2 separate regions of the Homo sapiens genome follow, and region 2 is linked to region 1. Evidence: fine-mapped expression QTL. A gene starts in region 1. The other region holds a variant in brackets. All regions are shown on one strand. Distances are between the middles of the regions. Region 1 holds the start of LSAMP (limbic system associated membrane protein). Region 2 overlaps LSAMP (limbic system associated membrane protein).

Evidence for each region. PIP is the estimated chance that this variant, and not a neighbour inherited with it, causes the effect. A credible set is the group of variants that fine-mapping cannot tell apart.
Region 2: its variant is the best candidate, but not a certain one, in a credible set for the expression of LSAMP in sigmoid colon (GTEx, PIP 0.71).

The regions. Positions count from the first base shown.
Region 1 is chr3:116,443,365-116,448,750 of GRCh38, reverse strand. It overlaps LSAMP (limbic system associated membrane protein), which reads left to right and starts at 3,264. Exons shown (of 7, transcript NM_002338.5): 1 at 3,264-3,874. The coding sequence starts at 3,720.
Region 2 is chr3:116,256,646-116,262,031 of GRCh38, reverse strand. The region is part of intron 1 of LSAMP (limbic system associated membrane protein); the gene reads left to right. Among named protein-coding and RNA genes, the nearest start is that of LSAMP-AS1, 100 kb to the left of the region's middle. RefSeq lists enhancers at 1,565-2,456, 4,688-5,244. The variant G/T (reference allele first, on the strand shown) is at 2,751.

The DNA of each region.
Region 1 (5,386 bases):
CAAATTCCACATTCCTACTACTTTGATGTAAATTACTTCATATTACAGTATGTTAAACATATGTTTTCTCCAAGCACCACCAGGCAAGTTCTTCTGGTAGTATGAGGTTACCAGTATAGGTATTAGCTAACAATCATGTATAAACATCTTCTGTTTATGATATGCTACCAGCCACCATACTTCCTCCTTGTCCTGAAAAAAACTTTCCTTTCTTCATACAAAATCTAGTTGACTGACACAGGAGAATACTTATACTCTTTAAATGTCTAATCCTTCCCCTCAGAGTATCTCTGCTCTTACTGGGGGTCATACTATTCACCTAGCACCAGCAATGGAAACAGATGATTCTCATAGCTACCAGTCCCTTTTATCTCTCTTTTCTTCCACTTGACATGGAAGAAGCACCAAACCAAAGGATATATGTTAATCGAAGCCTTTGTCTAAGCCAACTCTTCATTCCTAAGTGCTTAAAATCATCATTCTCAGTAAACTATCGCAAGAAGAAAAAACCAAACACCGCATATTCTCACTCATAGGTGGGAATTGAACAATGAGATCACATGGACACAGGAAGGGGAATATCACACTCTGGGGACTGTGGTGGGGTGTGGGGAGGGGGGAGGGATAGCATTGGGAGATATACCTAATGCTAGATGACGAGTTAGTGGGTGCAGCGCACCAGCATGGCACATGTTTACATATGTAACTAACCTGCACAATGTGCACATGTACCCTAAAACTTAAAGTATAAAAAAAAAAAACAAAAAACAAACAAACAAACAAAAAACAAAAAACAAAACAAACAAACAAAAAAATTAGCCTGACAAGGATGGTCAAGTCTGTTGGTGGTGTGGGGAAAGGGAGGGTGCTCTTTTCTCTGCAATCTTGGCAGAAAATTATGTAATCCTTGCATCTTTGATCTTCGTTTGTTTGTTTGTTTGTTTGTTTGGCACTTGAAGCTCATTTGTCCATTGATACCGGGATTCACAGGATTATGAGTTTTTTAGTCAACTATCCACTTGGCCTAACTATTTCTCCTATGGCAAAATGGATTCCAAGTTTTAAACAGCTGAGTTATAACTTAGTGGTCGAACATTGGTTTATTAACTGGGCACTGTGTATAATCCCTGACATAGGACACCTTGATTTATATAAAATGAATGCACAGTACACATAAAATTAATTGAACTCCATCAATCATGGATTTGTGACAATTCAGGTTCCAATCCTCCGTGTTTTCTTAAAAGCAAAATAGGTCTTCCTTTTTTTCCTCACGTAATCTGTAAGAGTTCATCTATCTTTTAAACTGAAAACATGCGCAGAAAAAGTGCTTTGAGTATTCTGAGGACAAGCCAGTTTCAGCACAGTGTTTCTTTAAGGCTTGTGCTCTGGTGGGGTTTGATAAGGATTCCTAAACATGTTTCTTTCTTTCTTTTTATTTTATTTTTGGCAAATGTCCTAGGCTAAACATTTGCTTACATAAGAGGGATGGGTATAATATCTATGTACATATTTATTTTTATATATATGGAATATTTATGGAAAGATATATAACAAACTTAAAATATATGTTGCCTCCAAAAAAGAGAAATGGGTTGCCTAAAGACGGGAATAAGAAGAAAACTACGGCCGGGCGCCGTGGCTCACGCCTGTAATCCCAGCAGTTTGGGATCCCAGCAGTTTGGGAGGACGAGGCGGGTGGATCACGAGATCAGGAGATCGAGACCATCCTGGCTGACACAGTGAAAACCCGTCTCTACTAAAAAAAATACAGAAAAAATTAGGCGTGGTAGCGGGCGCCTGTAGTCCCAGCTACTCGGGAGGCTGAGGCAGGAGAATGGCGTGAACCCGGGAGGCGGAGCTTGCAGTGAGCCGAGATTGAGCCACTGCACTCCAGCCTGGGCAATAAAGTGAGACTCTGTCTCAAAAAAAAAAAAAAAAAAAAAAAGAAGAAGAAAACTGCAATTCACTCTATAGCATCTTGTACCATTTGGTTTTTGTACCATATGAATACTTTCATTATTTAAATAAATATAATCAAAGAAGAGAAAAATAAAGTCCTTGGCTGGTACAAACACATTTTTTATCCTCAACATCAGTAATGAGGGAGATGTCCAAGAGTGTGGGGCTGTCACTTGAGTGACTATCAGTGGTCTTTATGGTCCTCATCACTTGCTTGGCTCATGGAATAAAAGGAGTGACAAATGATGGTAACCTGTCTGCCATTAGCAGGAGTACTGCACACAACCTTACTTAGTGTCTCCTTGCAAATGACAAGCTTTCTGATTTACAAATCTCCTTCCTTGCATATGAACATTTTGAGAAGTAAGTGCCAGGAGGAACTTGGGTAGCAATTCAATGTGCCCTTTAAATAGTAATCCTTAATACCATTACTCATGTGTAGGATTGAGTGAGAGTTTCCTGGAGAGTGAAGTTGATTTAGGGATCAGGGATCAGCTGCTGAGGCTGGCACTTGGAAAAAACAAGCCAAGCATTCACACCCCAGACCACTCAATACCAGCATTGTCTCCAATCCATCTTTCATAAAGGGGTTCCAAGAGGGGGAGGGGATGAAGGAAGGAGAGAAAATAAACCATTTTAATCCTGTAAGAGAAAGTGCAGGAAAGAGGAAAGAATGAACAAGACTTGAACACGCAAAGCCAGTTGCCAAGAATGTTTCGTTTGAAATCAACTTTGGCTTTTAATCTTAGACTCCACTGTCAAGTTTCTCCTCAGTTTCCTTCTCCCATCTTTCAGGACATTCCCCACCCTCACTCCCCACCTCAAAGCTTTCCTGTCCTCTGTCCCACTCCCCTCATTTGCAACTCTCCTTCCCACCTCCTTTTTCTTCTTTCCTCACCCCTTCCCTCTCCTTTCCTGGACTCTTTCTCCTGTTCTTTTATAACTTAAGTCCCTCTCCTTCTCCCCTCTCTCCTGAACAGTACCTCTAAGCTCCGTTCCCCCTTCTTAAGGAAATCAGCCAGGCCTCAGATGGAGCTGTCGTCCTGACAACCCAAAGGCGCATCAGGCTTTCATTGAGGCTGGCTGCTGCTGAAGGGGGCAGTTGTGCAAAGCGAGGGGCCACGTCGAGGGGAGGGCGGAGGGGATGACGTGGAGGGGCTGTTGAAAACCAGCAGGGTGGGGGGAGGGTGGGGGGGTGGGGGGGAGGTGCTGAGCTGAGAGAGCGCCAGGGACTGGGAGAAACAGGAAAGGGAGGAGGGGGAGAGAGGCTCTGGGTTGCTGCTGCTTCTGCTGCTGCTGCTGCTGTGTGGCTGTTTCTGTACACTCACTGGCAGGCTTGGTGCCGGCTCCCTCGCCCGCCCGCCCGCCAGCCTGGGAAAGTGGGTTACAGAGCGAAGGAGCTCAGCTCAGACACTGGCAGAGGAGCATCCAGTCACAGAGAGACCAAACAAGAACCCTTTCCTTTGGCTTCCTCTTCAGCTCTTCCAGAGGGCTTGCTATTTGCACTCTCTCTTTTGAAATTGTGTTGCTTTTACTTTTCACCCTTCTGCTTGGGTTTTATGAGGGCTTTGTTAAGTCTTAGAGGGAAAAGAGACTGAGCGAGGGAAAGAGAGAGGCAAAGTGGAAAGGACCATAAACTGGCAAAGCCCGCTCTGCGCTCGCTGTGGATGAAAGCCCCGTGTTGGTGAAGCCTCTCCTCGCGAGCAGCGCGCACCCCTCCAGAGCACCCCGCGGACCCGCACCTCGGCGTGGCCACCATGGTCAGGAGAGTTCAGCCGGATCGGAAACAGTTGCCACTGGTCCTACTGAGATTGCTCTGCCTTCTTCCCACAGGACTGCCTGTTCGCAGCGTGGATTTTAACCGAGGCACGGACAACATCACCGTGAGGCAGGGGGACACAGCCATCCTCAGGTAGGGCTTTCGGGCAACTTTTCTGCTGCGCGCGTCTACACGTGTGTGTGTGTGTGTGTGTGTGTTTGTGTGTGTGTGTGTGTGTGTGTCTGATCTCCTTGAACTCCAGCTCCTGATGCTGCAGGCTTGTGGTGTGTGTGTGTGTGGTGTGTGTGTGTGTGTCCCTGTTTTACTGACTGGTTGGCATTATAGCTAACAAAATTCAAGGGAATTCTGGTCCCTGTCAAGCAGCAGTGGTGTTGGTTAAATGTTGTTCGGTTCTTAGGACCTTGTTTCTCTTATCAAGGAAGCCTAACTTCACCCATGGCATTAGTGACTTCTGGGCAGTATTCTCACTATTGTAATTGCTGTGGCATTGCACTTGAGAGTTTTGTTGGGGGTCCTTAATTCTGAAAGAAAGGTTGTTGGATTATGGCTCTCAGAGAGTAGTACACAGTACTGCATTCTCCTTGCTCCTCCCGTGTCTGTGTGTGTGTGTGTGTGTTTTTCATGCCAACACACACACACACATACACACACACACACACATATCAAGGTTGTGTGTGAGGGTTTCTGATAGAAGACTTTCTGTAAGGATCTTCTAATTGACATGGAGGGCAATAAATCAATCTTAGAACTTTGGTTGGTTACTGAGCCTTTCCTGGAATGTGGATATAAATCAACACAAGATATGAAGAGCAGAAAGAAAAGGAATTTGCCAAATTGCTGATATTTAAGAGTAGGAGTGTTAAACACAGAGGTTGGGAGAGAATTAACCTGGCATAAAATGGATATTTCAAATTGATTATTGACTTCAAAGTCTTTTTTTCTGTGCAGCTCTGGCAAACTCTAAAATAATTTGAGATTGAAATTTGGAAAGAAGAGTCCCAAGTCCTTGGGAGTTTGACCCCTATCAGGTACTGTGAGCTAGAGAGACTCAAATGAGACCTAGTCATATTTTTATTTCTAAAATGCTCCAAGGTTATTTTTTGTGCTTCTCTTTTCTCTTCCTCCTCTCCACCAACTGTACCTACCCCTTGTTCTTTTTTCTAGCTTTCCTTGAATTTCTGGCAGATGCTAACAAAAAGAAAGAATCACTCTCCTTGGAGATCTTTTAAAAATCTCATTTCCTCCAAATAAAATGACCCAGTGTCAGTCTGTCTATCTAGGTAATATTGCTTGTTGTGGCAATAAAAACACAGTATACAATAGAAAATAAACCTCTAATCTGTGTGCAAGGAGCTGATAGTGCATAAACCCTGGGGCATCAGGGAGCAGTTCTCTAGCAGAGCTGCCGACAGCAGCAAAGTTTTCTTTCCTTTTCTCAGAAATAAATTTGGTTGGCTGTCACAGTGTCCTGCTTTGGGAGCTCTAGCCTTGTTAGAGACGAAAGTGTGTGTTGTGTGCCGTGCATTGCATGTGTGTGTGTTGTGTGGGTATGTGTTTCTCCAGATTGTAAAAAGTAAGAAAATGCTAATGTGTAAGCACTCCTTTCTTCATTTCCTGAGCTTTGGGTGATTACGAATCCCAAAG
Region 2 (5,386 bases), 190 kb after region 1:
ATTATTACATAAATTATTCTTGTGCTATAGAGATCAGCCACATAAAGTATAAAAACCCTTGCTCAACTGGTCTCTTACTTTAATTTAGAAAAAGATGTGAATGCAGATATATATATGTAATTATATATATCAGAATTTATTAATATATTGCATTAATATATAATGTATATATTTTATATTATAATAACATATATGTGCATAACATATCAATAATACACACACATACACACCTGTCACATAGAGAATAACACACATTCAAGTGAAAAAGAGAATGATCTAAGAGCATTTTGGAAAGATTTCCAAGATCAGCCACATTTTGTGAATCTGCTTTTAGTTGGCTAAGAATTTTTTTGAAGAACTTAGTCTTCAGAAAGATGGGATGCAGGACACTGTGCTAATTTCCTAGATAAATAATTGTTTTTTAATCAGAAAATTGTTTAAAATACAGATAACTTTCAACAAAGCAAAACTGAAAAAGAAAATGGAATTCAAAGATATGAGAAAGATGGAGCTAAAGTGGAAGAATGCTATGAAGAAGAGAGCATCAGATGACAGCTTTCTAAATAGCGAGGTGACATGCTGATAATTCAATGTGATGCCAAGATAATAAAAATGCATAAGAGCACTGGCCCAACAGACACATGCTATTATGGAACAGGAAACCTGTACCCTATAGCTCCTATTTATAAGGTAAGGTGAGCTGCAATCTGGCATCCCCCTTCTAGGTTTGAATGCCCCACGATCAGAAAGATGCTGATAACTGGAAATGAAAGAAGAAACCAACAACAAAAATGATTAAAGAACTTTAGGGTGCATGAGGAAAGATTAGAAGAATAAAATAGCCCTAGTTTTACTGTGATAACTAGGAAGGAATATGCATGATCACTATCTACGAGTGCTATATCAGAAAGTTGTAAACACTAAGGAGGCAAAGGAATAATTTACAGTACTGTGATACCAAGGTGTATGTGGCTAAGGGTAATAGGATAGAATTACACTTTGCAAAATATAATTTGAAAGCTTAGGATATATTTTAGAAAAGTTAATTGTGCACAAACTGTTTTACATGCCCAGAATGTTAATCAGCTGCATCCTTTCCCAGGTGATGCTCTATCTCTGCCTGCACCTCTACCTCATCAACAAACACTCAAGGAAAAGCACTTAGCTGAAGTCTAAATCTCCCAAAGGAAATGCTGCCTTAGACTTTAGGTCTTAGGATTAGGTTCTCCTTCTTTATCCTCAAGGCATAGATACACACTAATTGGCTTTCTCCCCTCTAAGCCTCACGTAGGTTGAGGACCCAGGCCAAGGAAAAGGGAGCCAGAGTTAGAAACCTGGAAGTTATGCTGGTGTAGCAGCAAAGAAGTCCTATCCTAGCTCTCCCTCAACCTCCTCCAGGTAACCAGCACTCTTAGAAGGTGTCCAAGTGCAGTTACTAAAGCCCTAGAAGATTATGCCGTGGTCTCAAAGAGGATCCAAAGATTATGCACTGAGAACTTGAAGAAATTATTAGAAACCCTGTGTATTTTGTATCTCACTCATTTTTATTCCTATTTTTATATATTTTACATTTATAATATATTAGTATAGTTTATAGTAAGTTAATATAGCAGTTCATTATTATTTATATATTATTCGAAAATTTTAAAAAATGTGTATGTGAGGTCCTGTGACCAATTATTATTATTTTAATAAATCTGCTTTTACTGGAGAGAAGAGAGACTCCTGGAGATTAAAGAATTCTACCTACCACTAGGCAGTGTCAGTAAATATCAAATGAGATCAAGTGTGTTTGTTTAAGCCCTTTGGAAAGTTAAATTTACTATACAAATGTAAAGAAGGATCCTTATTGAAAGGATTAGAAGGAGGGAAAGTTTAGCATTCCTTTCCTTAGAAAAAGACAATCACATAAAACCATCTTCTGAATGTAAATGAAAGATTTAGCCCTATATGTGAGGCAAATACCAAATCTTGGAAATGTAACTTCTCCAAGGAACATACTTGGGAAATTGCAGGGGGAATATTGAGAAGAAAGACTGTAGAAAAAAGAGAAAAAGAGAATCTGGAAGATGCATAGCGTGAGGATAGAAGAAGTATTTTGAGATGAGGTAAAATGAGAAAAATGAGGAGAAAGCAAGCTGTGATGCTGCTGCAGAGGATAAAGATAGCTGTTATAAAGGCAGAGAGCTAAGAAGGAGAAGACCCAAGCACTCTGTTTTTCTTTTGTTGTTTTTTTGTTTGTTTTTTTAGTTGAGACTTTTTCTTATCAAAAGTATTATCCAGTCACTTGTACACTCAACCAATAGGAGATAAACATATTTTTGCAAGCAACTTTACGAAATGATTGCATACCAACACCACCAGCACCACAGCTACACACATCACACATTTATGTAGTGCCTTCTAAGTTAAAACTACTTGCATGCACATCATTATTACATTGGCTTCTGGTTGTGAAAGACAGAGAAGTAATCTAGCAAAACGAAATAAGTCTTAAAATATGACACAAACACATATAATTATTTTTAAAAATGGGCATAAGAAGTAAGCCTTGGTGAAATTTTCCAATTTTAGTTTATCTTGTGGACTGTCAAGACTGAAAATGAACCGGTCTAAATTCTTCACCATTTATGAACAAAGTATAGCCATTAAATACTGTCTTATACCTCTAGAGCAATGTTAGAACAAACAAACCATATTTTATATGAGTGTTTTTAACTCCTGTCTCTGGGCCAATGTCTCATAAATAA[G/T]CTAAAAAAGGTTTTTGAGTAAATGCAATTGATTGAGGCATGTGCACTGTTGGTAAGATCAGTTTGGCATTTTAAGTCTGACATGTTATCAAATTGCTAAATGTATGGTTGTGAAAATCTAACAGCTGACTGCAGAGCCACTGAACAATTTTGTAGAATTTCTCCTGTTCTAATTACTGAATATGTTGAACAGTGTTAACACCACTCATGAACTGAAATGTTCTGATTTAATAAAAAGACAATCCTTGGGTAGGGTCAAGCTAAATCCTAATGTCTACAGATTTGGCGAAACAAGGACAGAATGTGTACATTTATGTGTAGGGGTTCTCTTTAAAACGTATTTTTAATGATGAAAAATATCTCCCCAATAGTTTTCAAGTGTTACACGTAAACCTTTTGATAAGAAGGTACAAGCTTATGCATAGACGTCACTCTCCTCTATCTTTTTAATTGAGCAGTCTCTGTATGACTATACGAATCATAAGAGGTCACTTTAGAAGTATGTGCCTATCTGAAAATAACAACTCTATTTTACTGTCAGGCAAGTGTTGTGTTCACCTTCAGGAAGCAGGGCAAACACATGATTTTAAAAATAATTTTCCTATTGGCCGCTATTGCTTCATTGATTCAAACTGTGGACCTCACTCTTACTTAGAATATGATACATTTCCTTAAAAGAAATTTCCATCACCTGATTATAGTACACAATTATAAAGGATCATCTTTTTAAAATATTATTTTCTTTTAGAATTCTGTTAAAATTTAATTTTAAAAAAGCTTAGAAAAATTCATCCCTGACATTCTGTTTACTACTTTAAAGATTACGGGTTTCTAATATACTAGCCTAGCATTAATTTTTAAAATGGAGGAAATTATTAACTGATTTAAAAAAAGATACAGAAGAATTAAATGAAACATCCATATTTAAATAAGTTGTTGGTAATACTCAGATAATAAAAGATATTTTGAAAGCTACTGAGAATTCAAAGGAGACTGATATAAATGGTAAAAAAAAGATTATAATATAGGTTGGAAAATAATTTGGGAGAAGACGGATTAATCCTTAGATTCACTCATCAATTTTGTAGAAAGGCAATGGTGTTAAATTTAGTTTAGGAGGCCAAAGAATTGCACATTCTTCTTTCCTTTATGAGAATGAGATAAAGAACAAGAAAACAAGCTGAAATCAAAGAATCAGTCAAAAGTAAAAAGGGTGACAAGCTAAGATCAATGAGGATCAGTTTTAATTCCTCCTATTTTACCTGATAATTGCCTGGTTATTAATTTTGTAGTGTTAATTAATATTACTCATACTTAATGAGGCACTGCAAAATTCTGAGTCATTAAGGAAAGTCAAAGTATATTTCCATGTTTACTGAGAAAACAAAGAATACTTCTTTTTTAAAATTTCAATAACGGAAGTGCAACAAGGAAAAATGACACAAAGAATAACATTCACTTAACCATTCACTGATTTAACTGGTATTTATATGGAGCACCCACCATGTATCAGCAGCTCTGTAGGTGTAATGAGGTTACAGGAATAAACAAGACTAGAAATTTCCGTGAAGGTCATAGAGCTTAAATTCAAGCAACCAGAAAAAAATTACATTGCTCATTATAATTCTCTACCAGATTTCTAAGCTGATTCTGTTTTTTTCTGTTTTGTTGTTTATTTTATCATTAGCAGCAAATATTCAGAAAAAAAAAATCTTTAATTTTATGTCAGAAAGTGCAATAACATTATTGTTTCCTATAATCCAAATTTGTTTCATAAAACTGTCACACTGCACCATTCCTTGAATACTTCTTACAAATTGAATCTTGTATGACTGCTCAAGAAAACTATCCAAACAATGTTAAAAAGCAGAAAAGACACAAGAGAGAAAAAGGACTAAGAAAAACAGAAGAAAAGAGTAACCCTACTTAATAGAAAAAGAACATTTTGCATAGTGAGTGTTTGGCTTATTATTCATGCCTTCACCTCCCAGCCTTCTGAGGGATGGAGTACACATGCACAGATTGGGCATACTCCATTTGTAAATGTGTTACCAATTACATTAGTCAGTAAAATTTCCCTGTAACTATAACGCTTGGGTCCCTGCTAAAAGGGAGTTTAGAGAACACTACCTAGATCTAAGGCTGAAGGGCATCCTCTGACCTCCCATTCTAAATTAGAATTTGAAAGCCACAGAGGAGTGTGTACCTCCTTTGAAGAGCACACACCGTCCCATGAAAACCACTCTCAGGGTCTTGCCCAGAAGTGCCTCCAGCATAGGGTTTGGAAGCAGATAGTCGAAGCATAGCAGCCCCAGATGTGAAAGCAAGGAAAAAGTGCTAGCTGTGCCTGAGTGCAGCAGCTGAAAGAAAGGTAAAATAGGACTTGATTTTTGTGACTGTGGAACAATAGCTTTTGCCACTCATGACACGTGACTCAGTGGATAGATGTCAGGGTCTGATTTATCGGATTCATCCTCTCTCCTCCTCACTTGGAGTGGAGACAGTGATAGGGTGAAATGGATTGAATTATTCCACTCATAGAAAAGTGAGGTGAGACTGACACACAGAAGAGAGAAAGAAAAGAGAGGACCAGGTACAGGAGAAATGCATAAATTGTAACAGCAATTTAGAGAGGA